4 linked regions of the Homo sapiens genome follow. The protein of the gene in region 4 interacts with the protein of the main gene of each other region in a pairwise test. Each region holds a gene or a part of one and is shown on either strand. Other genes may lie near its edges. The genes, in order: CLEC14A, KDELR3, ZFYVE27 and TSPAN2.

Region 1 (6,938 bases), on a different chromosome or scaffold from region 4:
TATAATTGGTCACTTACGACTTGTAAGTCTATTTTCCATTGTATACATTGTACACTCAAAAACATTAAAATAATTCTGTGAAAATAAAGTGTAAGCTTCTGTTTTCATTCCTCCCTGTTACTAAGCTTGTTTCTCTGCCTCTCTGCATGCACCAACCCCCACACTCTTAGTTTTAAAGTCTCAGCGTACTAATAAAAGTGGGATATCTTCTAGGGACTTTGATTCCACGAGGCAGTGATTTTTATTATGTCTTAATTATTTTTCATGGGAGTGCTTCATTTAGATTACTTTCTAATACCCCCCAGTTATAACAAGATGATAGATTTTTTAAAATTTGTCACTTATTTCTTATACTATTATTTCTTATGGTAAACTGTTTACCATGCCTTTGCCCATGTAAACACTTGTAAGATTATAATCACTCCAAAATGAGCAAGTATTGTTATTGCACACATTCTTATCAAGAGAAAAAGAAAATGGCTTGGTGTTCAAGTTTTTCCATGGGTTGAAAAATGCACAAGAACTTAGCAACTTTGGAGGAAAACCAGCTTACTTTTTCTTTGATGCAACCAGAAGATTGCAAATCAATACTTAGCATTAACATTTTAATTGAGAATTAACATCACCATAATTGAAGATGAGGATGAGCATCTTGATGTTCAGGAGAGGGCTATTTGCTTGGGGAGGTCATTACGCTGGAAAGCACAAACACTGGAAAGGGAAAACGCAAATTATGTGTTTTCCTTGGGCATGGACATAAAGTAAACACTTGAACTGGTGGTCAACTGTAATTTTCTTCCAGAGCCAGCAATTCTGGCAACACTACACTTTCGATTTATAGCAAAGCACACAAGTAGCAGTGACTTTGAAAAGAAAGGATAAAAGAATCAATGAAAAAGTTACTAGTTCTTAAAGATCTGTGTCTCATTCGAGGAACTTAAGGACCTCTCCCTCAATCTAAAAGCAGAATGCACTCTTGCTGCTTACTCCCAGCATGCCCTCAGCTGTTCCTAATTACTCCTGGAGGAAGGCAATGATATTTGAGTCTGGGTTATCAACAATCCTTTAATTTTTTATTTTTATTTTTTTCCCTGGGATTTCGAACCAATATACTCCTAGCCTGAACAACATAGAACATTTCCTTTCCATTTTGGTAGAAATTATTTTTTAATGTAAATTATATTGTGTTCTATTTGTTTCCAATGTCTTGAAAAGTTCAATCACTTCTCCAAATTCTCCGAATAAACATAAGAAAATATCTCTCCCCAGCACTACCCGGTCCCCCAGTATCACCATCCTAAAGGCACTTCCACTTCCTCTATCATCAGGGAAGGAGTGTGCAGTTCTGATTTAGCTCCTCAGTGGAGTAAAGGGAATTTAGAGGAAGGGGGATTTCTGCAGAAATTGTCAGTTACACAAGTAAGTTCCTCTTGGTTCCCCGTTTCATCAAAAGTGAAAAACTGTTCACAGGAGTGCCCATGTCCCCTGTTTCCCTATGCATCACTAGAGCCAAGAGGGGACTCCGCCAGCAAGGCACCCTCTGCTCTGTCCCGCAGATCACAGTCCCCGACTTTCACCCCATTGTTTGTGCAATGTGCAGAACTGGAGCCCAAAGCAGCGGGCTCAGGATCACTCTCCAGGCCCGGCGGGCCCATAGACTCCTTCCTTGGCTGGGAAGAGGGGCTTTCGTGAAAGCAGAGCTTGACAAGCCCCAGTACTGTCATGGTCAAGATCACCAACACTACTACTGCTGTGCTCACAAATATGAAGACCACGGCAGAGGAGGAGTCGAAAGCCTGAGGAGTGGCAGAGGAAGTCGTAGAATTAAACTTGGAAATCACGCTCCCTGATGGGGTGATAGTGGCCTTTGACTCGGCTTGAAGGGACATTTGAAGGGTAGACATCGTGCTCTGTGATCCCCATCGAGGAATCTCAGGAATAGATGTTACTGAATTGTCTTGTTCAGGGACAAGTGGTGTCTCTCCCAGCTTCTCGTCGACCCTGATTGGCCATGTTCTCTGCGGCACGGGGCTGGTTGCAGTGGCCGGCGGGCGCCTGGTGGGCACCCCGGTCCCCCCAAGGGTCGGCTGTCCTTCCCCACTGGTCACACAAGAGCGGCCGTCCTTCCCCAGCTCGAAGCCCGTAGCACATTCGCAGGCAAAGCCTCCCAAGTCGTCTAGGCAGTTAGGGAGCTCTGCGCATTTGCCAGCACGGAGGTACCTCCCGGGGCAGGGACACAACACATCGCCCGAGAGTTTGTCCCAGCGAGCGCCGATTTCGTCCGCGATGCAAGTAACTGAGATCGGGAGCTGTCCCCGGCAGAGCGCACTCACCTCGGTCCCAGGTGGACTGAAGTCCAGAGCGGCGCTGTGCAGCTGGAAGGGCGCGCGATAGCTCAAGTTAGAGGCGGCCCCGGGGCGCGGCGCAGGACACAAGACCTCAAACTGGTACTTGCACAGGTAGCCGTTGGCGCGCAGGTGGCATCGCATCTCCTTCCAGCCTGCGGGCTCGACCCCACCGGTGGCCTGGAGTACCGCGCATCTCCGCGCGGTGCAGGAGCGTTGGGGCTCCTCCACCCACTGCAGCGTGTCGCTTTCGAGACCGCCGGGGTCGGAGGACAGCCAGGAGAAACCCCGCAAAGGCTCGTTCTCCAGGGTGCAGTGGGAACGCCTGCGCTCCAGTGCGACCCAGAACAGCAGGTCTTTGGAGCCCCCTCCGGGCCCTGGGCCTGCCCGCAGGAGCGCGAGCACAGCGCGCAGCTCGGCGCCCGCACGCACGGTGCTGAGCGCCCCACCTCGCAGGATGCAGGCCTCCTCGGCCGCCTGCCGCTTCATGGTAGCGTGGTGCAGGCTGTAGCAGGCCCCCGAGGCCGAGCAGCCAGCACGGTCGGCAGTGGGGTGTTCGCCGCCGCCCGGCCCGGGCCAGAGCGCCTGCCAGAGGAGGCACAGGGCGAACGCCGGCCTCATTCTCTGAGGCCCCGCACGCAGAGCTGCTCCCAACTTGGATCTGTCCCGCTCGAGGACGCAGAGCTGTGTCTGGAGCGCGGTCACCGCCCTCTACAGCTGGCTTCCCCAACCCGGTTCCCCCTCCCTTCCCCTCCGCCCTCGCTCCCGACGGACCCCCCAACTGCCAAGAATCCCCCCGCGGGCCCAGCGGCCAACAGTTTCCCTTAGGCCGCGACAGGAAATGTGTGCGGAGCGCTGCCAGGCCCGGTGCAGCCCTGAGTTATTCTGGGGTCAGGAACACAGCTGGCGCCGGGTACAGGGGACGCAGTCGACTAGAAGGTCAAACACCCTGCTTAGAGCAAGAGGAGAAATTCGCCACTGGGATGAAGTGTGTGGTTTTTCTCCGTTCAGGGAGTTTCATCAGGACCGCAGAACCCATAACACGTAAGCGAACATAGGCAGGAAGGACTTGAGAAAGGAACTGGCTTATGATTATAAGACCACGCCCGTCTATTGTGTTTCTGTCCGGAGCTGTGGAGTTAGCGTCAGAATAATTCGTAGACGGCTCCAGTGTTTGGGGGGCCTGTGCCTGTGGGGGAAAAATATGTTGTGAAACAACTTAGCAACTGCTTTTGCCACCAGAGGCAGCACTATTTAACCGCATATCTCTCTATGGGTCTTTGCTTCTCTATTATGTCAAGAGATTTCAGGAGTCCTAACTACTAAAGAATTTGGAGTTGTTTGGGTATTTTAAATGGGAAATTCTGCTTCTTCCATCAGCACTTGCTTTAGAAATTTATTTTTCACTTCCACGTGTTTCTCTTTGAGTTAGACCATATTGATTCATTACAGAAAGGAAATGTATTTCTAGGACTAAATGAAAAATAATGACCATAGATCTTAACAGTTAGGTTGTTAGCTTTCCTTGCCACTGTATTGGTTCAAAAATTCTTCAAGTTTATAGGTTATACATAAATGAGTTCGTGGCCTTATAAATATTCGAGAACAACTGCCCTATGTGTGATTTTAGCCTTGAACTATTTTAGTATCATTTTCTCCTATGATTGAGTGGCAGCATTTATAATAGTAAGTTGTAAACATCTCCTTTAAGGAAAATTAGAGTTCCTTAAGAAATTAAAATGTTTATTCCATTATAATGAATATTGTATACTGTCAAAAAATATCTTGTAATTTGAAAGATGGGTGAGCCAATTTCTTTAGAATTCCAGTGGGTGTTTTGTTTTAATATAAACATTTCAACTCAGTGGGAAGTGGCAAGGAATTAAAGATGAATAAAGAAGTAAAGGTTAAAAACTGTACTGTTATGAAAGGATTTCTTGTTAGCAACTTAGACAATTCAGTATCAGTTTAGAAAACGTACATTCTATCTTGGTTCATAATGGCCAAATACGTTGCCATCAGAAATACATAGAGAGTTTCAGCTAAGCCCTCTTAGAGATGTCTGATGCTTTTAAATATCTTTAATCAGAATGAAAGTTGCCATTCCATGGATAATGCATATAAGCTCACTTTGTTTTACTGCATTCAGGTTGATGAGGGGTGGGAGGGAAGGTTTCAGGATCACATCTGTATGCTTCCATCTTATTTTTACCATAACTCTCATTCTTCTTTCCTCCTGGAAATTCCATGTATCTTAACAAACAACAGTAAGCCTATGAGTCATCATCATACTTACCTTGCTTTTGCTGAGTATGGAGCTTTGCACTAGGATTTCTCTCCTGCCCTATTTCCCAATTTAAAGAACATTCCTTAGTCCTTCCTTCAGATGTCTGAGAATCACCTTAAACGTGGCTTTGCGTTTAAATTAGGTAACTTAGTGTCTTATAAGAAAGAAACATGAAAATCCAGAAATCAAATTGAATGGTTTTTAAAAAATACTTAGTCACTTGGGCCAGCTCTCTATAGACCATTGCAATCTTATGACTGTGTTTGTAAATGTGTCCATGTAGTGCAATATTTTTAATAAAATCTTTTTCAAACTTAAGTAGTCAATGGAAATTTCTTAGATAGCTTTAAAAATCGTTTGGGATGAGATGAGGTGTCTACAGTAAGAAAGAATGAATAGCTGGAAAGCTTAAGTAAATACATGATCTCACTCCCTGACATTCTGTCTAGGGGAGTGGGATTATAGCAGAGAACACATTGGCCATAACGACTATATGAGAGTACTGACCATGACCATGACCATATCATGGAATGACACAAGAGTTAGAAAAAATTAGCTCAAAGTAGGACGTAAATAGTTTTGTAATTAGTTTGAAATAGACAGTTTATCTGACCAAATTAGAAATGGAGGAAAGTTTCTATTTTTTAATAATATTTATTAAGATAATAATATAGAACCATTTTACCCCCACTGGATTCCAAATGCCTAAAAATCTTATAATACCAAATGTGAATCTATTGGCTCTTTTACATGTTACAGATTAGAGCAACCACTTTGGAAAAATTTGACACTTTTTTTCACTAAAATTGAATATTTGCAAACTCTAGCACTTCCATGATAAGGTATAAAACTAAGAGAAATTTTTGCACATGTACAACAGAAGATATGTAAAAAATGTTTATAGTGACACTATTCATATTAACAAAACGTTGAATCAATCAAAATATCCAAAAACAGTATAAAAATAAACTGTAGTATATTCACTAATTTAATATTATATAGGAGTAAAAATTAGTACAATATAGTGGCAAGTAACAATATGAATTTATTTTAGCAATACAATGTTAATGGACAGAAGTTCCAAAAACGATACAGAGTCTGACATTTTTATACAATTAAAAGAACAGTACTAGATATATGTTTGTGTATTCTTTAGAAAAATAGTTACAATAAAATGAGACAAAAGAAACAATAAACATAAGATTCTTAGTGATGCGCCTTTTGGGTGAGAGGAAAGAGAAGGATGGAATGTTAGGGGAACTAGCAGGCTTGATATGGGCTGTTGATAGAGTCCTAGCTTTTGTTTTGTGCAGTGGCTTTGTGTCACTACCCAAATAATGGAATCTTTATTCCATTATTAAAAATAAATAATTAGTAATGAACAAATAAATCAAAATGGCTATATCTGGATAAATAAGTGAATGGACATGAAGCAGGAATTAAAATTAATTTAATTCTGAGTGGTTGAGTTTCAAAATGAAAAGTAAAAATAAAATCAAAATGTTAATTATGTTTAAAATATATTTTCAGTATATTTTCTTTATTTTATTATTATACTTCAAGTTCTGGAGTACATGTGCAGAACATACAGGTTTGTTACATAGGTATACACGTGCCAGGGTGGTTTGCTGCACCCATCAACCTGTCATCTACATTAGGTATTTCTCCTAATGCTATCCCTCCCCTAGCCCCCCACCCCCTGACAGGCCCTGGTGTGTGATGTTCCCCTCCCTGTGTCCATGTGTTTTCATTGTTCAGCTCCCACTTATGAGTGAGAACATGCGGTGTTTGGTTTTCTGTTCTTGTGTTAGTTTGCTGAGAATGATGGTTTCCAACTTCATCCATGTCCCTGCAAAGGACATGAACTCATCCTTTTTTATGACTGCAAGTATTCCATGCTTTATATGTGCCACATTTTCTTTACCCAGCCTGGGCATTTTGCTCCACCTGAGTGCATTCCTCGTGGCCTGGGAGCATTTCAGATACCCTAGCGCACCTAGAACCTAAGCCCAAGGGTCCGGAGGATGGAGCCATGAGCCGGTCCTGGCTCCCCAGGACTACAGCACATAGTTCTGCGGTGCTGAACCAAGATCACTGGCCAGCACTCAAGTAGGGGAGAAGCCCACATTCTCAGAGCACTAAGAAGGGTAAGATGTGTGATTTCTTGGGCTGGCAAAGGAGCAGGACATACCTCCCTTTGCAGGGACAGTCTGAAAAAGGTATGGTCCATGTCTCTGCCATGGCCTCTGCTAGATGAATCCCTGTGGCTCAGAACACCTAACAAAAGAAATGTAGGCATGGTGTCA
Region 2 (7,495 bases), on a different chromosome or scaffold from region 4:
AACTATTGTGCTCAAGATCACCGGGGGGCTGGGCACAGTGGCTCACACCTGTAATCCCAGCACTTTGGGATGCCAAGGCGGGTAGATCACATGAGGTCAGGAGTTCAAGACCAGCCTGGCACGTGGCGAAACCCCGTCTCCACTAAAAATACAAAAAAATTATCTGAGTATGGTGGCAGGTGCCTGTAATCCCAGCTACTCATGAGGCTGAGGCAGGAGAATCGCTTGAACCTGGGAGGCGGAGGTTGCAGTGAGCTGAGATTGCACCATTGCACTCCAGCCTGGGCAACAAGAGCAGAACTCTGTCTCAAACAAACAAACAAGCAAAACAAAACTGAAGATCACAAGGGTTCCCAAAGTGCTAAGGAAAATGTGAGTAAAACCCAGGGGACTGGCAGGCTGAGGATGAAGAGAAAAGAGGGGTAGGGGAAGGCCCAAGCGGGTGACCAAGCGTCCCCCACCAGGGCTGCCTCCCAGGCAGTCCTTCGTGGGGCTGAGGGCTTCTCTGTCAAAGTCTGTGTGAGGGCTCAGTGAGATGAACATCAGGCCATCCCAGAGCTGGCCTCAGGTCAGTATGGCCTCCCCCAGTGGGGTTCATTACCCACTGCCAGCCCCACTGTTGCCCTCACCCCGGCTAGTGCACGTGCGCGCGTGCTAGACCCCCCAGAGGGACTCAGGTTCTCACTGAGCACTGTGTATTCCTCAGCTCAGTCCTGCCACTCTGCATGAGGGGCCGTTTGGCAGGTGAGGAATGTGAGACCGAGGCTCGCCCTAAAGCCAGCACATTCTCCAGAATGTTAGGGACTTCAGGGGTGTTCCTTCTTGCTCATTAAAAATGTTCCCCCAGGCTGGGTGCAGTGGCTTACCCATGTAATCCCAGCACTTTGGGAAGCTGAGGCAGGAGGATCACCTGAGCCCAGGAATTTGAGACCAGCTTGGGCAACATGGCAAAATCTTGTCTCTAGAAAAAATATAAAAATTAGCTGGGCATGGTAGCATGTGCCTGTAGTCCCAGCTACTCAGGAGGCTAAGGTAGGGGGGTCATCCGAGCCTGGGAGGTTGAGGCTGCAGTGATCTGTGATTGTGTCACTGCACTCCAGCCTGGGTGACAGAGTGAGACCCTGCCTCACAAAAAAAGAAAAAAAAATGTTCTCCCACCCCAAATGTCTGGAACCAGAGGGATGGTTAGAGAAGGCACAGTTCAGGGGTACAGGGGAACCAGACCCTGAATTAGACAGCACAGTAGTTCCCCCTTATCCACGGAGGATATGTTCCAAGACTGCCAGTGGATGCCTGAAACCACGGGTTAAACCAAACCCTATATATATACTGTTTCTTCCATCTGATAACCAAGACTGCTGTCCGGGCACAGTGGCTTACGCCTGTAATCCCAGCACTTTGGGAGGCCGAAGTGGGCAGTCACTTGAGGTCAGGAGTTCGAGACCAGCCTGGCCAACACGGTGAAAACCCATCTCTACTAAAAACACAAAAATTAGCCGGGCATGATGGTGGGCGCCTGTAATCCCAGCCACCCGGGAGGCTGAGGCAGGAGAATGACTTGAACCCGGGAGGCAGACGTTGCAGTGAGTCGAGATCGCACCACTGCACTCCAGCCTGGGTGACAGAGTGAGACTCTGTCTCAAAAAATAAATAAATAAATAAAAAGTGGCCAAAGGACACTAAGGAGCATGACAACAAAATGCAGCATGGATTCCGGGATGGAATCCAGGAATGGAAAAAGGGCAGCAGTGGGAAAACTGGTGAAATCAGAATAAAGCCTGGAGTTCAGTCAACAGTGCTCTACTGATGTTGATTTCTTTGTTTTGATAAAGTACTGTCACTAAATACGATGTTTTTTTGTTTTGTTTTGTTTTGTTTTTTAAGACAGAGTTTTGCTCTTGTTGCCCAGGCTGGAGTGCAATGGCACGATCTCGGCTCACTGCAACCTCCACCTCCTGGGTTCAAGCGATTCTCCTGCCTCAGCCTCCCAAGTAGCTGGGGTTACAGGCATGAGCCACCACACCTGGCTAATTTTGTATTTTTTAGTGGAGATGGGGTTTCTCCAAGTTGGTCAGGCTTGGTCTCAAACTCCCAACCTCAGGTGATCTGCCCGCCTCGGCCTCCCAAAGTGTTGGATTACAGGCATGAGCCACCGCCCCCGGCCCAAATACGATGTTAACACTAGATATAGCTGGATATGTGGGATTCTCTGTACTGTCTTTACAACTCTGTTGTAAATCTAACATTCTTTCAAAATAAAAAGTTAAAAAAAGAAAGAGACCAAAGTGGGTCAAGAAACAGCATTTAGACTGGGCGCGGTGGCTCACGCCTATAATCCCAACACTGAGAGAATGAGGTAGGAGGATCACTTGGGCCCAGGAGTTTGAGACCAGGCTGGGCGACATAGTGAAACTCTGTCTCTACAAAAATAATAATAATAATAATTAATAATAAAATTTGCCAGTCTGATGGTTTGTGTCTGTAGTTACCAGCTACTCGGGAGGCTGAGATAGGAGAATTGTTTGAGTCCAGGAGATAGAGGCTGCAGTGAGCTATGATTGCACCACTGCACCCCAGCCTGGGAGACAGAGTAAGACCCTTTCTCTAAAAAGAAAAAAATAAAAAAGAAAGAAACATCATGGAGAGTATGAACCCTTTTTTGTCAACTCAGTGCATCCATGTGCATCATATGTGTACACATAGGTGTCATGTGTGTACATGTTCACAAAGATATGGAAGGATGAACACTAGGGGTTTGGAATATTTTTATCTTTGCATCTTTGTATATTGTTTGATTTTTGTTTTGCAAAGAGTAAATATAGGCATAACTTTTGTAACTAGAAAAAAGGCTTTTTGGCTGGGCGTGGTGGGTCATGCCTGTAATCCCAGCACTTTGGGAGGCCAAGGCGGGCAGATCACTTGAAGTCAGAAGTTTGAGACCAGCCATGACCAACCTGGCGAAACTCCGTCTCTACTAAAAATTCAAAAATTAGCCAGGCGTGGTGGCAGGCACCTGTAATCCCAGCTACTTCGGAGGCTGAGGCAGGAGAATCACTTGAACCCAGGAGGCAGAGGTTGTGGTGAGCCGAGATCACGCCACTGCACTCCAGCCTGGGCAACAGAGTGAGACTCCATCTCAAAAAAAGAAAAAAGAAAAAAGAAAAAAGGCTTTTTAAATCTTACAGTTTGAAAAATAAAATAGAATGCTCCCCTGGCCCTGAACCTTCCTCTGCCTGCTCTGGTCTCCCTGGTGAATCAACACCTTGTAAAGTCAGTGAGTTGTTCCTCCTAAGACTGAGCTTTGGGGACTGTCAGTGGAACTCTGGGGGTGGAGTGAAGAGAAGCCTCAACAACCCCCACCAAGCCCGACTCACACCACCCCCGACATCCTCCCCAGAGCAAGAGCCCAGGCAGGCACACGCAGGGGGACTGGGAACTCGGTGTTCGTGTCTTTATTTGGAGACTGGGAGACAGATTACAGTTTAATGAGAGGAACGACGACTCAAGTGATCCGATGGGAAGGGTGAGTTTCCTGGCCCTTAGGGAGCGACAGTGCCCTGGACAGGAGGTCTTTGAGTGGGAGTGGACACTCTAGAGGCCTCCCCAGCTCCAGGCTGTGCACCTCTTGAGGGTGGGCAGGCTTGGGAGTCTGTGTCCTCATTGTCTCCTGTCTACCCTTGGCCACAGGCATCTCTGGGAAGAGCCAGATCCTGTTTGCTCTCGTCTTCACCACCAGGTACCTGGACCTGTTCACCAACTTCATCTCCATCTACAACACAGTAATGAAGGTGAGGGGCTGGGTGATGATGGTTGGGGGAAGCCACCAAGCCCCCACAAACTGTGAGGTAGCCTGCTTGGAAACTCATTCTGTGGAGCCAGGCCGACCTGGGTTTGAATCCTGACTTTGCTGCTTAGTGGCTGCAAGACCTCATCTTGGGCCTCTTTGTATGTCAGTGTCCTCGTGCAAAAATGAGGACAGGGCTGGGCACTGTGGCTCATGCCTGTAATCCCAGCAATTTGGGAGGCCGAGTCGGGCGGATGGAGACCATCCTGGCTAACAAGGTGAAACCCTGTCTCTACTAAAAATACAAAAAATTAGCCGGGCGTGGTGGCTCATGCCTGCAGTCCCAGCTACTCAGGAGGCTGAGGCAGGAGAGTTGCTTGAACTTGGGAGGCGGAGGTTGCAGTGAGCCGAGATCGCGCCACTGCACTCCACCCTGGGTGACAGAGTGAGACTCTGTCTCAAAAAAAAAAAAAAAAAAAAAAAAAAGACAGTACCATTACTTAGCTCAGAGGGTTTGGTTGGGAACATTAAATGAGATAATAAATGTAAATGTAAAAAACCCTGCCATATATTAAACATTCAATAAAGGGTCACACCTGTAATCCCAGCACTTTGGGAGGCCAAGGCGAGAGGACCGCTTGAGCTCAGGAGTCTGAGACCAGCCTGGGCAATGCAGTGAGACTCCGCCTCTACATAAAATTTAAGAAATTTAGCTGGGCGTAGTGGTGCTCATCTGTGGTCCCAGCTACTCAGGAGGCTGAGGTGGGACAATCACCTGATCTTGGTAGATCAAGGCTGCAGTGAGCCATGATCATGCCACTGTACTCCAGTCTGGGCAACAGAGTGAGATCCCGTCTCAAGAAAAAAAAAATTATTTAGGTGATAGAGAAGGATTAGAGAGCTACTTCAGGGAGTGTGGTCAGGGCATCTTCAAAGAGATGACATGTAAGCTGACAGCTTAGTGACAACAAGGAACCAGCCATGTAAAGATCAAAGGACACACCTTCTTTCTGTTTTTTTAAGACGGAGTCTCACTGTTTTCTGTTGCCCAGGCTGGAGTGCAGCAGCGCAATCTCAGCTCACTGCAGCCTCCACCTCCTGGTTTCAAGCCGGGAGCTTGCCTTGTGCCTCAGCCTCCCAAGTAGCTGGGACTACAGGCATGTGCCACCATGTCCAGCTAATTTTTGTATTTTTAGGAGAGACAGGGTTTCTCCATGTTGGCCAGGCTGGTCTCACGCTCCTGACCTCAAGTGGTCCACCCACCTCGACCTCCCAAAGTGCTGGGATTATGGGTGTGAGCCACCATGCCCAGCCAAGATGTAGATTTTAGTTGGACACATTATCTAATAGGAATCTTATTTCTTGTGCAGTGGTGCGATCATGGCTCACTGCCTCAACTTCCCGGGCTGAAGGGGTCCTCCCACCTCAGACTCCTGAGTAGCTGGGACTACAGGCACGCACCACCATGCCTGGCTAATTTTTTTGTATTTTTAATAGAGACAAGATTTCACCATGTTGCCCAGGCTGGTCTCAAACCCCTGGGCTCAAGTGATCTGCCTGTGTCAGTCTCCCGAAGTTCTGGAATTACCATGATCAGCTAGGAGTCTTTTTTTTTTTTGAGACGGAGTCTCGCTCTGTCGCCCAGGCTGGAGTGCAGTGGGGCAATCTCGGCTCACTGCAAGCTCCGCCTCCCGGGTTCACGCCATTCTCCTGCCTCAGCCTCCCGAGTAGCTGGGACTACAGGCGCCTGCCACTGCGCCCAGCTAAGTTTTGTATTTTTAGTAGAGACAGGGTTTCACCTTATTAGCCAGGATGGTCTCGATCTCCTGACCTTGTTATCTGCCCGCCTCGGCCTCCCGAAGTGCTGGGATTACAGGTGTGAGCCATTGCGCCCGGCCAGGAGTCTTCTTTTTTGTTGTTGTTGAAATGGAGTCTTGCACTGTGGCTCAGGCTGGGGTGCAGTGGTGCAATCTCGGCTCACTGCAACCTCTGCCTCCTGGATTCAAGCAATTCTCCTACCTCAGCCTCCAGAGTAGCTGGGATTACAGGCACCCACCACCACGCCCGGCTACTTTTTGTATTTTTTGATAGAGACGGGGTTTCACTATGTTGGCCAGGCTGGTCTCAAACTCCTGACCTCGTGATCTGCCCACCTTGGCCCCCCAAAGTGTTGGAATTACAGGCGTGAGCCACCACACCTGGCCCCCCCTTTTTTTTTTTTTTTTGAGACAGAGTGGAGTGCAGTGGCACGATCTTGGCTCACTGCAGTCTCTGCTCCCGGGTTCAAGTTATTTATTTATTTATTGTTTAGACAGAATCTAGCTCTGTCGCCCAGGGTGGAGTGCAGTGGCGCGATCTCGGCTCATTGCAACCTCCACCTCCCAAGTTCAAGAGATTCTGCCTCAGCCTCCCGAGTAGCTGGGATTACAGATGTGTGCCACCATGCCTGGCTAACTTTTTTTTTTTTTTTTTTGTATTTTTAATAAAGACGGGGTTTCACCATGTTAGCCAGGATGGTCTCCTGACCTCGTGATCTGCCCACCTCGGCCTCCCAAAGTGTTGGGATTACAGGCATTAGCCACCATGCCCAGTCTTTTTTATTTTGAGACAGTCTCCCTCTGTTGCCCAGGCTGGAGTGCAGTGGTGTGATCTCGGCTCATTGCAACCTCCGCCTCCCAGGTTCAAGCGAATTCTCCTGCCTCAGCCTCCTGAGTAGCTGGGATTACAGGTGCACACCACCATGCCTGGCTAATTTTTGTATTTTTAGTAGAGACGGGGTTTCACTATGTTGGCCGGGCTGGTCTCGAACTCCTGACCTCGTGATCCACCCTCCTCGGCCTCCCAAAGTGCTGGGATTACAGGCGAGAGCCACCGTGCCTGGCCTAGGAATCTTATTTCTAAGGAACAAGGGTTCCATGGGGGAATTCTATCTTGCAGGGCTATTGAGAAGATCACATGAGATAACATACAGCACCTAGAAAATATTTAACTAAAGTGAGTTGTCCTTTTCTTCCATATCAGAGACATCCCTTTGGGATTTCAGGCATGTTGTTACTAGTTGGTAGAGTGGAGGTTGCTGTTACTTGTGAGGTGTTGAACTCATTCAGATTTAGTGAATGTGAATCTGAGGACTGGAAATCACCGTCTACTTAAGTTCACACATGTATCAAACATCACCTGCTAGTTCATTTCTCAGCCCAAGTCAGCCTTGGGCATTCCTGGCAGAGACAGCAGACTCAGCCCTTGCCATAGCTGAATGAGGTCTAGGAAGCTCAAAGAGGCTAGTTTCTACATTTATGAAATGAAAAAGTGACCACCTCATTCACTCATTCCAGCATTTGTTTTGTGCCAGGGACTGAGTTAGGAGCTGGGGATTAGGAGGTGGACCTTGCCACGGAGTCCTCTCTTAGAGGGGAGATGGACTTGTACCTAGACATTTACAGAGCATGTGATCACGGGCTAAAATGAGTATGTTCACATGGAGCTATGGCGACAGAATGTGTGCCTCATTGTAGTGAAAAAAAGACTGCTTCGAGGAAATAACTCCAAATAGGAGTACAAATAGGAGTGCTCTAGGCCAGTGTGGTCCTGCTCCGGCAGTATCAGCGTCACTTGGGAAACTTGTTAGAAATACAAACTTTTAAGGCTGGGCTCGGTGGCTCATGCCTATAATCCCAGCACTTTGGGAGGCCGAGGCGGGCGGATCACCTG
Region 3 (8,278 bases), on a different chromosome or scaffold from region 4:
TGTTTCTCCATAAGAGTGGGCAAGGGAGCCATCTGGTGGAGGAGGCATGCTTAGACATTCCCTTCTCTCTTCCCTGATTTCTCCAGCCTGTTCTCCTCAGCATTTCCACCTAGTATTTCTCCAAGGGCCACAGTGAGGTTTATGAGTCAAGTATGTGGGCCATAAACACACTTGCTTATTGAAGCAAATACTAACCTCTGCAAAATGTCAAGGTAAGATATTATCTTCAGTGATTATTTAATTTTCTCCCTTAGTCTCTTCTACCTGTCTGCTACCAAGGGGAAAACATCAGCAGCACCAGGAGTTGAGGCAGAATGCTGCAGGAGGGAAAGAAGGAACTAGAACTTGATTATGGAAAAATCAGAATTAGACTCGAGAGAGCACAGTCAAGCTGGTCCGTCTCTTAATTATAAGGGGAGGCCTTTATTCATCGCTACAGGCCACGACTATTGTCCCTTTCTGGTTTTTAAAGCCTTCTTGTATCCTCCAATGTTCCCTCCAGATAATGTCTAGAAATTCTTGAATAATATCTCTCAATTCTATAGCTGCTGGAAGAGAAAACAAATACTATTACTCTCCACTGTCAGACTGAGGCCAAGGAGGAGGAATTGCAAAGAAACTAAAATTTACCTTTGGAGTAAATTACCAGTGTGAGAATTTCAGGCACTTAGGATATATATATTATTATTATTTTTTCGAGACAGAGTCTTGCTCTGTCGCCCAGGCTGGAGTGCAGTGGCACGATCTCCGCTCACTGCAACCCCCGCCTCCTGGGTTCAAGCAATTCTTCTGTCTCAGCCTCCTAAGTAGCTGGAATTACAGGCACGCGCCACCACACCCGGCTAATTTTTATATTTATTTATTTATTTATTTTGAGACGGAGTCTAGCTCTGTCGCCCAGGCTGGAGTGCAGTGGCATGATCTCGGCTCACTGCAATCTCCGCCTCCTGGGTTCACACCATTCTCCTGTTTCAGCCTCCCCACTAGCTGGGACTACAGACGCCCACCACCATGCCCGGCTAATTTTTTTGTATTTTTAGTAGAGCCCAGGTTTCACCGTGTTAGCCAGAATGGTCTCGATCTCTTGACCTTATGATCTGCCCACCTTGGCCTCCCAAAGTGCTGGGATTACAGGCGTGAGCCACCGCGCCCGGCCTGATTTTTATATTTTTAGTAGAGACGGGGTTTCACCTTGTTGGCCAGGCTGGTCTCAAACTCTTGACCTCAGGTGATCTGCCCGCCTCAGCCTCTCAAAGTGCTGGGATTACACGTGTGAGCCACTGTGCCTGACCGGTACTTAGGTTATTAAAGAAAAAAATTTATTTTTCTTAAGAAGGGTGGGGACTCCTTAGCTTAAATACTACATTGTTGAACACAAAACTTTCCCCATCCTCTCACTTAGATTAAGTCTGCCTCTTCTCTCTGCTCCTACGGTTACAGTAGAATCCCCTGCTTTATATCATGGCTCAGTCAAGTCAGCGTCTTCTGTTGAACTAAGAGTTCATAGAGGGTAGAATTTCTGTCCAGTTCATTCTTGCTGGTTTCACAGTCATTGTTTTAAGAAATGATTCATGACCAGCCTGGGCAACATAGCAACACCTCATTCTACAAAAAAAAAAAAAAAAAAAAAATTGGCCAGGCACGGTAGCTCACACCTGTAATCCCAGCACTTTGGGAGGCTGAGGCAGGCAGATCACGAGCTCAAGAGATCGAGACCATCCTGGCCAACATGGTGAAACCCCGTCTCTACTAAAAATACAAAAATTAGCTGGGCGTGGTGGTGTGCACCTGTAGTCCCAGCTACTCGGGAGGCTGAGGCAGGAGAATCGCTTGAATCCGGGAGGCGGAGCTTGCAGTGAGCCAAGATCGTGCCACTGCACTCCAGCCTGATGACAGAGTGAGACTCCGTTTCAAAAAAAAATAAAAATAAAAATTAAGTAGCTAGGTGTTAGTGGTGTGCACCTGTAGTCCCAGCTCCTCTGGAGGCTGAGGCAGGAGGATTGTTTGAGCCCAGGAATTAGAGTGAGCTATGATTGCACCATTGCACTGCAGCCTGGGCAGCAGCAGAAGACCCTATCTCAAAAATAAAATAAAATTACATTAAAAAAGGAAAGAAAGATAAGAAAAAGAAAAAAGAAATGGGCATTGTTCTGGGGCTTTTGTTGAAAGAGATGTGAATTCTGTGCTCCAAGAGGAAACTGACACGCATGCGCTCATTCAAGGAACATTTGTTGGTACCTCCTTTGTGCTAGATGCTGGACACAGAAATTATAGGCAGTTCCCTCAGGACTCTCACTGTCTAGAGAGAGGAGGAGGCACCAAGTGCTGGGGTGGGGCAGGCCCACGGAGCCAAGTCAGAAGGGCACGTAATCCAGACAGTGGCTGCTGATGGGGAAGGTGTCAGAGAAGTCTTTCTTCAGGGGTGAGATCTGAGCTGAATTTTGGAGGAAGAATAAGAGCTGGCCAACTAAAGAATATGGGGCGCAGTGGCTCACGTCTGTAATCCCAGCGCTTTGGGAGGTCGAGGCAGGTGGATCACCTGAGGTAAGGAGTTTGAGACCAGTCTAGCCAACATGGTGAAACCCCATCTCTACTAAATACAAAAAATTAGCCAGGCATGGTGGTGCATGCCTGTAATTCCAGCTACTTAGGAGGCTGAGGCGGAAGAATCGCTTGAACCTGGGAGGCAAAAGTTGCAGTGAGCCAAGATTTCTCCATTGCACTCCAGCCTGCGCAACAAGAGCAAAACTCTATCTCAAAAAAAAAAAAAAAAAAAAGGTGAGAGTAGTCTGTAGAAAGGTACAGTAATGGGAGAAGGTGTGACATATCCGAGAACTGCCAGAGTTGAATACACCAGGCTTTGGTTTTATCCTGGAGGTCACAGGGGGCCACTGAAACTATCCACCAAGAGAGTGGTCTGAGAAAGGTACAGAGGGGTGGACAGGGTGGGGGATGGGAGTGGGTGGGGAGTGGCGATGGCCTATCCTGGAATTCAGACCTGAGGCCAGGTTAGGAAACGAAGAAGAGGGGCCTTCAGAGGCTATCTGCATGACAGACCCAGGAGCTTTCGGGGAAAAGACCCATCCTAAGGGAGGAGAGGCAGAGTCCAGCAGATGGGCCTGGACCACCACAAAGCTCAGTCCATTTCTCTAAGGGGTGGTGAGTGGATTTCTGTATATGGCTTAGTGATATGTGTGGGAATTGGATCTTTCTACATTTTGGCCTTTCGTGGATTCTTGTCTGATTTTTGGGCTAGGGGTGGTGGTGGTAGGGCTTTGAGTAAAAATAAAAATCACAATGATTGCTAACGATTTTTGAACACTTATAACATGTCAGGAATTTACATACTTTAGCTCATTTAATTCTCATCACAGCCCCACACTGAGGGTACCACTATGGTTATCCCCATTTTACAGCTGGAAAAACCAACCAAGCAATTCATCTGAGGAGAAGCCCTCCTACCTTACTTATGTTGGGACTGGCGCATGCCGGGTAATTGACAAAGTCAACTAAAGCAGGGAGCTTTGAGAAAAATACCTACACAGGGTAAGCATTTACTTTTGGGACAATCGTCAATTTATACATAGTTATAAGAACTAACACAGGGTGATCCCACAGACTACCCCCCAATGGTAACATCTTGCAACCCTTCTTAACAGAATGCCTACTATGTGCCAGGTACTGCTTTAGGTGCTGGAGACATAGACACGGGAAACGAAACATTAGCTGACAGAAGCCACAAGAGTGAATGAGATCCTCACGGAGTGCCTTGAGTCAGAAGAAAGAAGGGTAGCAAAAGGAGCCCCAGCATTTGAGGGGTAGGAAGAAAAGCCCTAAGGAGACCTTGAAGGTCGGAAAGAGAGGAGAGGGTGGTGTCATGGAAGCTAAGGTGGACAATGGTGCCAAAAAGGAAAGAGATTCCAGTGCTTCTGAGGTCATCTGCAAGGAGGACTGGGAAGTGTCCATTGGATTTAGCAGCCAGGATGTCACAGGTGAGCAGGCAGGTAGCCCAGAAATATGGAGGGGAGCAGGACCACAGTGCAGTGAGGAGTGAATTGGGCGAGGAAGCAGCGGTAGAGAGCACTTCACAGTGAGTCTTCCAACTCATGTAGGAAAGAGGGGGTAAAGTTAGGCTAAAGGAGAAATTTTCCATGAATTTTGTCTCTAGAATGATGATTAAGAGTTAGCGAGAGTCAAGATTTCAGGCCTGTTAGAGCAAAGCCCTAAGGAAATAAGAGTTGGACCCTGGAGCACAGCTAAGTCCTGGCTGGAGGGATGGGCCTGTCTTTCTGAAAGGAGATAATGGAGGAAGAGATGCAGTTAAAGCTCTGTGGCTACTTGAAGAGGGAAGTGATTACTTCCAGCTGGGGCACTCAAGGAAGGGATACAGACATTTGAGTGCCAGGGGCATTTGAGGGTAACAGTGGAGGGGTTCAGTTGGCCAAAGTTAAAGGCAGCTGAAAGATGGCAGGAGACAAGACCAGGAAATGCAGACCAAGGTGGGTGGTGGTATGGTTGGGGCGTTGGGGTCAGATGACACATAAGCTTCAAATTCCAGCTCCCATTTGCTTCTTAGCTGTGACTCTAAAGAAGTTCCTTAACACGTCTGAGATTCCCCATCTGTAAAATGGCGACAACCCTAATAGGGTCGTTGGAGGAGAACTAGATAATGTCTAAAAAGAGCTCAGTCCGGTTCAGTGCTTGGCTCCTCTGTACCTGAGCGCTAAGTCACTAATATAAAGCCATCGGATGTGTGCTTTAAGGGAAATTAACTGGGCCACACGGTGTGAAGTGAACTGAGCTGGGAGAGGCCTGCACAGGACCTTGTACACACTAGCTACTCCGGAAACAACTGCATGCTCTGCTGGGCATCTCATACAGGATACGGTGTCTTTCCGGGGCTCACACACAGTCCCCAGTTCAGTTCCAAAGTTGGAAGGAAAGAGGATGAAGACGTAAATTCTTCATTTAAGCCTCTCGCCAACTGTTCCCTGCGGCAAGGCAGGGCAACGAGCTGCAGGGTCGCCAAGCACGTGCTTCCAAGGGTCCTCAAGGCTTTGTGAACGGCGGCCGGCCAAGGACAGAATTAACTCCAGCCTGGAGCGCGCGGGAAAGACGCGCAGGCGCACTGCTGGCAAGGGTGCTTGCCTGTGCTGGGGTGGGCGGAGCTAAACCCGGAGCGGGATGACGTCATGAGGACGCAGCCGCAGAGCGATTCGCGTCCCGGAAGCGGCGGTGGCGGCCGCGGCGTAGGCGGAGGAGATTTTCGGACCTGCGACTTCCGAACAACCCTGGCAGGAGGAGCGGCGTTCAGCCGGGGGAGGCCTGAAGAAACGCTCCGGGGCCCAGTGGCTCTACCCCTGCTCCTGCCCGACCCTGCCGCCTCCCTCACGGAGCCAGCGGCCGGGTAGGTGAGGTGCCGTCCCCCCGCGTCCCAGTGTCTCCGCAGGCTGTGTGTAGTTGGGTGCTTGGGCGCAGCGGGGGCCGCCACATGCTGGCCCCACGACCTCGGGCATGGCCTTCCCTGTCCAGCCTCACGGGCTCCATCAGGCCCCCCTGGCTGCAGAGGTGTTGGCCAAGGCCAGTGCGGGCGTCGATATACCTCGCCCCTTCCTGGGCTCATACCTGGCGCCGCTCTGTGCCCTTTCGCCTTGGCTCGGCCTGCGGGGATTTCGGGGTCCCGTTGGCCCCTTTGTCCCATCCCCTCACCCTCCCATCAGGTCGCGGCTGATTGCCTGGGACTGGTTTATGTTGCTCTTCGCCGAGGTTCCGCCCCCTCGTTTGCTGCTTAGAGTTCAGGATAGGACTTTGAACTGGGAAAGACCGTAAAGGCTCCTCGGTTTCCTCATCAGAAAGGGCAGACGGGAATGGGGCGTTCTGATGCCGACTGCCCTGGGGCAGAGATGGCCCAGGAAGTTGTTGGGAACCGAAGGGAGTGGGAAGAGTTAGAGGATCGGGCGAGAGTCCTGGAGCACGGTATTTCATTCACTCATTCAGCAGGCATTTGTTAAGCACCCACTGTGTACAGAAGCAGTCGTGAATGGAGGCCAGTTAAGAGCAGGGAGTTTTACTTTGACGTGGTCAGTGCTCTGCACTTGATCTTAGCCACAAGGCCAAGAAGCGATGTGATGTGATAAGTGCTCTGTTAGGGTGAGTACGTGATCCTTTGGGAGCATCGGAGAGGGTCTCCCAGTCCAGAGTTGGGGGTGTTGGCAGAGACTTCCCAGAGTAAGGGAGTGATGTTTAAGCTGATACCTGAAGGATGAGTAGGAATTAACCAGGTAAAGAGTGGGAGAAAAATGTTCCAGGACATCATTTCATTTCAGCCCATGGGCTGCCTCGCTGCAGCGATCATTTATGCTTGGTTTTTATGATTTTTAGTTTTGATGGATCTTTGGGGAAAAGAGCATTGGATGGAGAGTACAAAGAACAGGATTTTAGGTCTGAATAGTTCACTTTCCCTTGCTCACAGGTTTACTGTTGGCACCACCTGAATCTGTAGGTAGAATTGTGTTGAGGACTAGACGTGCAATGCAAATGTTGGGAATTATTATGGTTACAGGATGCAGACATCAGAACGTGAGGGGAGTGGGCCGGAGCTGAGCCCCAGCGTGATGCCCGAGGCTCCCCTGGAGTCTCCACCTTTTCCTACCAAGTCCCCAGCGTTTGACCTTTTCAACTTGGTTCTCTCCTACAAGAGGCTGGAGATCTACCTGGAACCCTTGAAGGATGCAGGTGATGGTGTTCGATACTTGCTCAGGTACAGACTTTGTGGAGTTGCTCTGGTCTGCTCTGCCTTCTGCCGTCCTGCTCTGTAGTAACTAACACTGACCATTTAGGCAGTGGCTGGGCTGTCCTTTCTGCCCTAGTGAGGAGCAGTTCTGGGAGGTCTGTTCGGCCTCTGGGTTTATCTAGGCCTACCCTGTGTCTCAGGCCCAGCCCAGGAGAGGCAGATACTGGGAATGATCCTGCCTTTCAGCAAGGTTCTTCTTTGTGACTGAATAAGCTCCTTCCTCTGGACTGCTGGACAACCTTGAACATCACGCCTTCTACAGCTTAGAGCAGGCTTAATTTTTTCCTTTGCCCCCAATATTAGCATAATTAATATTAAAAAATTAGGGTATAATTTTGAACAAAAATTAAAGAAATACAAAAACCTGTGAATAAGCAGATACCATTTTCACTACTTTTTTTTTTTTTGAGACAGAATCTTGCTGTATTGTCCAGGCTGGAATGCAGTCGTGTGAACATGGCTCACTGTAGCCTCAGCCTCTTCAGCTCAAGCGATCCTCCTACCTCAGCCACCATGCCTGGCTAATTAAAAAAAAAAAAAAATTGTAGAGAGGCTCTCACTGTGTTGCCCAGGCTGGTCTTGAACTGTTGGGCTCAAGTGATCCTCCTGCCTCAGCCTCCCAAAGTGCTGGGATTACAGGTGTGAGCCACTGTGCCCAGCCCATTTTTACTAATTTATTGAGATTATGGATCTTAACTTTTTCCCTCCTATCCTGCTTTGATTTTCATTCTCTATAATTTTCATTTTTTCTTTTGACTCATTTTATTATGTTAAAATTATTTTAAATTACTTATATGGCATTCTACTCCCTAAATATGTCAGTTTTTATCTCTAAATAAGGACATTTCTTTCAAGATCAAAGTAACACCATACCTAACAAAATTAATAACTCCTTGATATCATCCTATACTCAGTTCATATTCCATTTCCTCAGTTGTACCATCTCTTTTGGCTAAATCACATTTCAGTCCAGGAGTGTGCATTGTTTGTACTTATTATGTCTTTTAAGTCTTTTTTCAGTCTAAGACAATCTCTCTCGTGACATTGATTTGCTGAAGAGACTGAGCCTGAACTGACTTTCCTGGAGAATTTACTACCGAGATTTGTCTGGTTTCTTCCTTGTGGTGCAGACTAGAAGTTAGATTTAAAGGTTGGATTTGATTGAAGTTAGAAAAGTGTTTTTTTTTTTTTTTGCAAAGGTAAATGTTGTGCCCCTGGTGTTGCATTGCATCAGGAGTCACACAAAAACCTGATTGTCCTAAAGAGCAGAGGTTTTTAACTTGGAGCCTATGGGTGAGTTTTAGGGATCAGTGAATCCCCTGAAACTGCATGTAAAATTATGTGTCTGCACATGTGTGTATTTCTAGGGAAAAGCTTCTGGTTTTCATCAGATTCTCATAAAGACCCTCAGTCCTCTGAAATACATGAGAGAGACTGGTAGGAAGCAGGGTGAGTGGAGTTACGTTAACCTCTGAGGATGCCATT
Region 4 (8,433 bases):
TCCCCCCTCCAACACTGGGAATTACCATATCAGCATGTATCAGTGTGTGAATTGGGGCACATAATTCAGAGGGGCTTTAAAGAATTGATTGTCATTGCTATAAAAACATCTTCCATCTTTATCTACTTATTTGTCTAAACAGAGTTTTTCAACATTAATATCAAAACAATGAAAAATATTAAGGGAATTTATGGTCAGCTTTGTGGTTCTAGCAATAATATTCGTTCATGGATATATGAACTAGTAGAAAAAAAAATACCAACCCCATCAATATCATTAAGAGATGCATTTCCAGCAATATTTTACCTTTAAGTTTAGTGACTGTTTATTTAAAACTATATTTTAAATTTAGTATACAATTTTAACCACTTGGATACCAAAAATAATTTTAACAGTAACTTAATCTAGAAGAAGTTTGTCCAACCCGTGGCGGATGGTTTTGAATGCTGCCCAACAAAAATGCATAAACTTTCTTAAAACATTATGAGTATTTTGTGATTTTTTATCTCATCAGCTATCATTAATGCTAGTGTATTTTATGTGTGTCCCAAGACAATTATTCTTCTAATGTGGCCCAAGTAAGCCAAAAGATTGGACACCTCCGATCTAGAAGAACTTAGTTAACATTTACAGCCTTATGGTCTCAGGGGAAAAGTTTAATTTCTTTTAATAAACATAGTAAATTTTGTTCAGACAAGTATAAAAGGACATTCAAGAAAAATCATTCAAGCATAAACATGCATTAATTTAGGATGACATTTTGTAAAACGGAAATACAAGTTCAAGGAGCAAAAGGAAAGATTAAAATTTTCACCCTATTAAAGAGGAGCTTGCTCATGTATTTTTAATTATTTATTTATTTATTTATTTTTGAGACATGGTCTCATTCTGCCACCTAGGATGGAGTGCAATGGTGCAATCTCAGCTCACAACAGCCTAGACCTCCCACGCTCAAGTGACCCTCCCACTTCAGCCTCTGGAGTAGCTGGGACTACAGCGAGCACCACCACACCCTGCTAATTTTTTTCATTTGTTTTGTAGAGATAGAGCCTCACTATGTTGCTCAGGTGGTCTCAAACTCCTGGACTCAAGTGATCCTCCTGCCTTGGCCTCTCAAAGTGCTGAGATTACAGGCGTGAGCCATCATTCCTGGCCTTGTTTATGTATTTTTTAATCGATGATAATAGGTAGCAGATCATACTGGCATTCAGTTTCTACTGGATGTATTAAAATGAGTAATGTGGCCATTTGATTTTAAAAGTCAATATTTAAGACACACCAGAAATGACATCTCTGAAAATATTCAAACTTATAATAAATAATTTTACCTGCAACTTAAAAATGTGTGAGGGTAATACTATACAATGCCATTTATATGAAGGTTTAAAACAGGCAAGTGTAATCTATAGTGAAAGAAAATCAGAACAGTGTTTGCCTTTAGGAGGGATGTGGGCATAGATTGACTGGGAAGGGTTATATGAAAGCCTGAAAGCTTCCTGGGGTGACAGTAATATTCTATATCTTAATAGGATTCGGGGTTAGAAAGGCAAAAGCATTGTCAAGAATTATTAAATAATATACTTAAAATGTGTACATTTCATTGGGGTAAATTTTAGAAAAATAGTAAATAGATATTTGAACTCTAGGTAATGTTATGCATGCTCAAGAGTTTAGGAGTGAAACATACTGCCTACAATTTATTTGGAAATAAATAAAAAAAAATAGATTGAGAAATGGACAGATGTATAGATAAGTAATGCAACCAAAGCAAAATGTTTATTGTAGCATCTAGATGGTGAGTATATGGTGCTCCTTGCCCAACTATTTCAAATTTTTTGTACGTTTGAAAATATTCATAATAAAATATTGGGAAAAAATGCAAGAGAAAATATTTTTGTAACTATTTTAGGGCATGTGTGGGCAACAGTTTTAAGACCACTGGCTTCTATTTATCACCATTTGCTGAAGAATCTTTACCCTAAACTTACCATCCAAACCTTTCTCCAGAATCCAATCATATTTCCACATCATCTGGATTTCCCACCATATCTAAAACTCAGCAGATCCAAAAATGAATGTATTGTCTTCCCTCTACCAGTCAGGAATATCTTTAGCTACATGTAACAACACAAAGTCAAACAAAAAGAGGGTTATTTTTCCTATATAATAAGAAATGTGGAGTTAGGTAGCTGCTGGTATTGGTTCAGCAGTTCCACAATGTCCTAGCTGGAAGGTCTGCAATTGTCTTGCCCTTTCTTCATAGTCACAAAATGTTCTAGCACTTCAAGCATCATGTCTGAGTTCAAGACAGGAAAAAGAGAAAAGGGAGCAATGCCAGTGACAGTTTAAAGGCTAACTTCCTTATTATGTCATTTAATGTAGCCCTGTACTTTCTTATAGTAATATACCCTTGAAAATGTATGGAATGCCTTTCAGGCACAATACATACATATATGTTGATGATGGCAATTCCTCATGTTGGAAGTGGGACCTTGTGTGAGGTATTGGATCGGAGTGGATCCTTCATGAATGGCTGGATGCCATCCTCCCTATAATGAGTGAGTTCTTGCTCTGAGTTCACATGTGATATCTGGTTGTTTAAAAGAGTGTGGAACTCCCCACTTCTTTTGCTCCCACTCTCGCTGTGTACACACTGGCTCCCTGTGACCTTCCACCACAACTGAAAGCTTCCTGAGGCCTCACCAGAAGCAGATGTCAGCACTATGCTTCCTGTACAGCCTGCATAACTGTGAGCCAATTAAATCTCTTTTCTTTAGAGATTACCCAGTCTCAGGTACTACTTTGTAGCAACACAAGAATGGACTAACACACATGCGTCCACACACATACACATACATGTACACAAAAACCTAAACCTCAATTGGCTTCAGAAATGGCTAACTCAGTTATGGCGTAATATCACCTATGACTCTGGTTTTTTCAACTTCCTGCTTTGCTGTTTTCAATGTTGGATCTCTCCTCAGGCTGGTATGAAGATGGATATAGCAACTCTATGTATACCATCCAGATCCAACAGCTTCAAGAGGAAGAAGACCATCTGGCCCCTCAGTAGACACCACTCCCATCCCATTAGTCAGGATGCTTGTCAATTTGTTTCCTGAACTAACTACAAGGGAAATGGGATTACCTTCGCCTATTCCTCTCAAGGGTCAGCTTCCCTTAAGACATACAACTTTGTGAAAGGGCGACTGGGCAAGTCTATACTAAAGATCTGAAACTGTTATGTTGGACAGGCAACCACCATCTGTCTCTAATACATGTGTGCTAAAATCGTAGCATGAAAAAAACAAACAATAGATGTATATGTTACAATAGGGGTTCTCTTCCCTCTATATAATCTCTAGACATATTTTGTCTTAGAGATGTAAAATTCAACGATATATTTAAAGTATAATATCATTGTTCATTCAGTTGATTTACTGAACGCCTTCTATGTACCAGACACTACTCTTTAACTTAGTTCTTTTCCTTTATACTAAAACAGAGGTGACAGATATAGAACTATAAGTGTTTGATTGAAGCTAATGATTCACTTCTCTCTGCATACCTAATGACTTCCATCTTTGTCTTTATTTCATTGTTGGAGACATGTTTATTACTAGAATCAGCACTTTCATTTTTCTGTCTTTGACTCGTTTTTATAAATGAGTCGATATTCAAACAAATGTCCAAAGACACAGAGGTAGGCAAAGATGGCAACATGGTAGAAACTGAATGGTTGACTGATAAGAGTGTGATACAATAATACTAACCCTTATGCAGTACTTAATCTGTGCCAGGCACTGTTCTAGGCACTTCACAAATACTAACTCATTTATCTTCACAACTCTATGAGGGGAGTACTATTACCTCCATGTTGCACGTGGGGACACTCGGGGCCAATGACAGTTTGGCACATTGGTCAGCCGACTGAAAGCTGTGATTTGGCTCCTGCCTTCCTGACTCACTCTGCCCCCACCAGGCTTCACTCGGGCTAACTGCGGTTCTCAGAACTCCCTTGGAGGCCTTGTTCTCTCCAGCTCTGTGCTTTTGCGCATGCTGTCTTCCTGGACTGATCTTTTCCGCCTGGGCTCCGTCTTCTAGACCAGATCAGGCCCCTCTCCTTAGCAATGCCTTTTCTGGTTAAGGCAGTCAGGCCAGGCACACCTGTCTAGCACCCAGCCCTTCTCTCCTCACCCTATTTGCTTACAGATCTGTCTCCAACACCAGAGACTGTGGTTCTGGGCCTGGCTGTCTCCTCATTGTTGAGTCCCTGGGGCTTGCTACTATGTCTGGCCTATAATAGGCACTCAAAGTTTTGCTGAATTTATGCATAAGCTCTCCGAATTTTGCTTTCTTGTCTCCCCCATACTGTCTGACACCACATATTGTAGACACTTAGTCAATGGAAGTGGGAGTCTGATTTTCCTGCCAACAGCCTAACTTAATAAAAACAAAGCAAAACAAAAACCGCCCCCTTCCCCTTTCTCCCATCTCCACATCATAATTAAGATCCCGAAAATTTGGGATCCTTCCAAGCCCTCCGATCAGTGGAACCCGGCAGGACATGAGAAGTCAGACTCCCTCCACTGGCCGGCTGGGTTGAGGGCAGCCCACAGGACTCAGGGCGCCGCCTCCCGCACCCTCTCTCAGTTCTTGCCTATTAAGGTAAGAGTCCCCCGAGGAGGGGGGAGGGGCCGGAGGGAGGGTCCCCTAGAAGCTGCTTGTGTGCTTGCTCCGCGCCGCGGAGCCGCAGCCCTGGACACTCAGTCAGGTGCCCCGCGACTGGTCCTGCCAGCTTCGGGGCAACCTCCGACCCCACTTAGCTCTTCTACCCGAGGTCACCTTCCTAGATTTCCATAGCCACGAGACCAAGTGCTTATCCCTCAAGCATCGCCCGGGCCTCAAACCGGTCTCCGCACAGGGCGCTGATTAAATGGGTCCCCAGTCCCCGGTGGGCGCTCCCGCCCTGCAGGTGCTCCGATAGCCGGCGGCGGTGCGCCCACTGGAGGGAAGGAAGGTGGTCCCTGGGTCCGGGAGAAGAGCGAACGTGCTCCCTCGGGCTGCTCGATCTCCACCCGCTGGCGCCCCCACCCGTCGCCAGCCACGCCGCTTGGGGTCCACGCGCCCCTCCCCGCCGGGCCCCGCCCCGCCCCCCGGAGGCCCCGCCCCGGTCCTCCCCGCTCCGCCCCCTCCCCGCCGGAGCCTGCCGCTCCCCGCGCTCGTAGCGCGGGCCTGGGGACTGGGGATCCCGCCGCCGGGCCGCAGCATGGGGCGCTTCCGCGGGGGCCTGCGGTGCATCAAGTACCTGCTGCTTGGCTTCAACCTGCTCTTCTGGGTGAGACCAGGAGCCGGGAGGGCCGGTCAGGGCAGGGGGCCGGGTGGCGGGCGCGGGGCCGGGGTCCCCGAGCTGCTGACTGCGGCGTCCGAGTCGCGCTCGTGGGGAGGGCTGGGTGCTCAAACGCGGAGGCGAGGAGAAGGCAAACAAAGAGGGAGGGGAGGGATGGAAGGGAGAGAACGGGAAGACAGAAGGTTGATCAATGAGAAATGGTGAGAAGGGGAGAGACACCGTGTGGCTCTTTCCTGGAAGGAACCCCCACCTGCCTTGGTTTTTATCTCCCAGCTAGTGACCCCAGGTGCGGGGACCCAGCCTCTCCTCACCTCCGGAGGACTTGGGTCCCTGTTCCCCTCCAGTCTCCCGTGCACACACCCCCTTTTCACTCTGCCTACCAGCTGGAACCAGGGCCTGGCCAGGGTGATGGGAGAGAAACCCCTGCCCTGGGGCTGCCTGGGGTGGTGCTCCATTCGAGTGTGTGGACACTGTACCTGGCTGTGATGGTTTTGTTTAGGAAATTGGAGATAGGAGTGAAAATTGTGGTGGGGGGGCGTCGTCCTTTTTCTGGGCATCAGGGTAAGAGTACCCCTGGGTGAGAGGAGGTGGTGGGTTCTCTTCTGAGAAGGGGATGGGGAATGGAAGGGCTTCTAAAGGGCAGCAGCAGCTCTCCACAACCCCCAGCCGCAGCCTCTGCTAAATACTAATTCTCCCAGAGATGATCTCATTCAACTTTGCAGGGTTTGATTGAACTGACAGCGTTCCCAGGATTCATGGTTCACAGAGAGATAGGATCTTGACCCTTGTCTCCTATATTATCGAGACAGGGATACAGCTAGACCAGACCTACATCCCTGGATACCCTGTCCCAGGGCCTGCAGGACTGTGAGACAAGGTCTGAAAATTGTCTTTTCTGCACATTTCCTCTTGGGCTTTCTTAAGAGAATGTCAGCCAGTGTAACTGCTCAGCTAGACCCTGAGGGGAAACATTGGATAAAGAGGTTTGAGAGCAGCCAGGGCCTGGGTGCTTTGAAACTACCAGGTTGGAGGAGGTGGCTGTCCTATCTGCTCTGGGGGACGTTGTCTTCCCATGATTGCAACTAATTAATTATTGAATGATGGGCTCCTCTTTTGTCTGTCAATCCATTAGCCCAGATGCCTGGGTGACTTCAGCAACTCCAAGCTCTTCAGTATCCTTCAGCAGTGGAAGGTGTGAAGGAGGTACCTCCTCGACATCCCCTGAACTTTAAAGAGACACATGGCCTTTGTACACGTGGGGATTTACATCAAGCATACTATAGGGAGAGGCGTTTCTGAAGACCCTTTATGTTGTATTTTTTAGGAATCTGGCTTAATTTCAGAAGCTGTTAATTATAGATGTCACGCCACAGTGACAACCTTCATTCTCACTGCTTATGAATTCAAAGCCTTATGAAGTTTTAAGCCTGAGGAGGAATTCTTAAGCTGGGTTCAGTGCTTATTTAGTGGCTGATATTGTACCAGCCTTTCCAGTGATAGCTGGAAGGATTCATTGAATGTTTTCAATGTGTCAGGGACAGTGCTAAGCATATTACTTTCATTATTACACATAATCCTCACAAGAGTCCTGATATACATATACTATTATTATCCCCATTTTTTACAGATGAGGAAACAGGCTCAAATTGGTTAAGTCACCTAAGATCACACAGCTAGTGAGTGGCAGGGATGGTATTCAAACTCAGCCTACCTTCTCTTTTTTTTTTTTTTTTTTTGAGACGGAGTCTCACTCTGTAGCCCAGGCTGGAGTGCAGTGGCCCGATCTCCACTCACTGCAAGCTCCACCTCCCAGATGCACGCCATTCTCCTGCCTCAGCCGCCCAAATAGCTGGGACTACAAGCACCCTCCGCCACGTCTGGCTAGTTTTTTTGTATTTTTAGTACAGACGGGATTTTACCGTGTTAGCCAGGATGGTCTCCATCTTCTGACCTCATGATCTGCCTGCCTCAGCCTCCCAAAGTGCTGAGATTACAGGCGTGAGCCACCGCGCCTGGCCGCCTACCTTCTCTTAAGCACTGTGGTACATTCAATTAACCAGTGGTTCTCAAAAGTGGTTCCTGGGCCAGCAGCATCAGCATATCCTGGGAATTTGTCAGAAATACAAATTCTCAGGCCGGGCACAGTGGCTCATGCCTGTAATCCCAGCACTTTAGGAGGCCAAGGCAGGCGGATCACCTGAGGTCAGGAGTTCGAGACCAGCCTGGCCAACATGATGAAACCTCATCTCTACTAAAGTACAAAAATTAGCCGGGCATGGTGGTGGGTGCCTGTAATCCCAGCTACTTGGGAGGCTGAAGCAGAAGAATCTCTTGAACCCGGGAGGCAGAGGTTGCAGTGAGCTGAGATGGTGCCACATTGCACTCCAGCCTGGGCAACAAGAGCGAAACTCCATCTCAAAAACAAACAAACAAACAAACAAAATTCTCAGCTCATCCCAGACTTGCTGAATCAGAAACTCTGGGGGTAGGATCCAGCAATCTAATTTAACAAGCCATTCACATAATTCTGATCCATGCTCAAATTTGAGACCCATTCTGTTAAACAATGATTAAACAAATAATAATTTATAAATATAAACACAGTTCCCTAAGCTGCTCATCTCATTGAGGAAACGAGACCAGTGGATATGGAACAACACAAAAATAAGACAGTGTGGAATCAAGTGACAAGTTTCACACTGTTGACCGTAAGCACAGTAAGGAAAGGAAGTAGGAGCAGTGCAGTTTTAAGTGCTTGAATGTGTTAACCAGTGAGGTTAGATCCGACCTTCTCTATATGTGATCTAAGTAAGGAGTTTAGAGAAAGGATCACAGTCATGATGAGGAGCCAGAAAAGTTCTCCTTAAGAAGGAGCTATTCGAGCTAAACCTGGAAGGACTGGTAGAATGGAGCTGGGCAAAGCGAGGGGGTGACGCACCATCCACCAGCAGAGGAGCAGAGCAAGGGGGAGTGTGCGCCACCATCTGACTGTCGAAGCCATCAGGCTGGAGTGCAGAGATCCCAAGCAGGGCGTGCCTGCACAAACAGGGTGTACTTGAGCAAGTTATTGTTACTTCTAGGCT

The links.
Region 1: the proteins of TSPAN2 (region 4) and CLEC14A interact in binary tests that used the Homo sapiens proteins (3 or more experiments, as listed by UniProt).
Region 2: the proteins of TSPAN2 (region 4) and KDELR3 interact in binary tests that used the Homo sapiens proteins (3 or more experiments, as listed by UniProt).
Region 3: the proteins of TSPAN2 (region 4) and ZFYVE27 interact in binary tests that used the Homo sapiens proteins (3 or more experiments, as listed by UniProt).

What each region holds. Positions count from the first base shown.
Region 1 is NC_000014.9:38,253,057-38,259,994, forward strand, and holds CLEC14A (C-type lectin domain family 14 member A precursor), read right to left. Parts: upstream 3,038-6,938; 5' UTR 2,967-3,037; coding exon 1,494-2,966; 3' UTR 944-1,493; downstream 1-943.
Region 2 is NC_000022.11:38,470,836-38,478,330, forward strand, and holds part of KDELR3 (ER lumen protein-retaining receptor 3), read left to right. Parts: intron 1-3,687; coding exon 3,688-3,788; intron 3,789-7,495.
Region 3 is NC_000010.11:97,731,915-97,740,192, forward strand, and holds the start of ZFYVE27 (protrudin), read left to right. Parts: upstream 1-5,213; 5' UTR 5,214-5,407; exon of another isoform or gene 5,408-5,411; intron 5,412-6,562; 5' UTR 6,563-6,563; coding exon 6,564-6,760; intron 6,761-8,278. UniProt on the Homo sapiens protein: Key regulator of RAB11-dependent vesicular trafficking during neurite extension through polarized membrane transport. Promotes axonal elongation and contributes to the establishment of neuronal cell polarity.
Region 4 is NC_000001.11:115,086,269-115,094,701, reverse strand, and holds the start of TSPAN2 (tetraspanin-2), read left to right. Parts: upstream 1-5,198; 5' UTR 5,199-5,269; coding exon 5,270-5,338; intron 5,339-8,433. UniProt on the Homo sapiens protein: May play a role in signalling in oligodendrocytes in the early stages of their terminal differentiation into myelin-forming glia and may also function in stabilizing the mature sheath.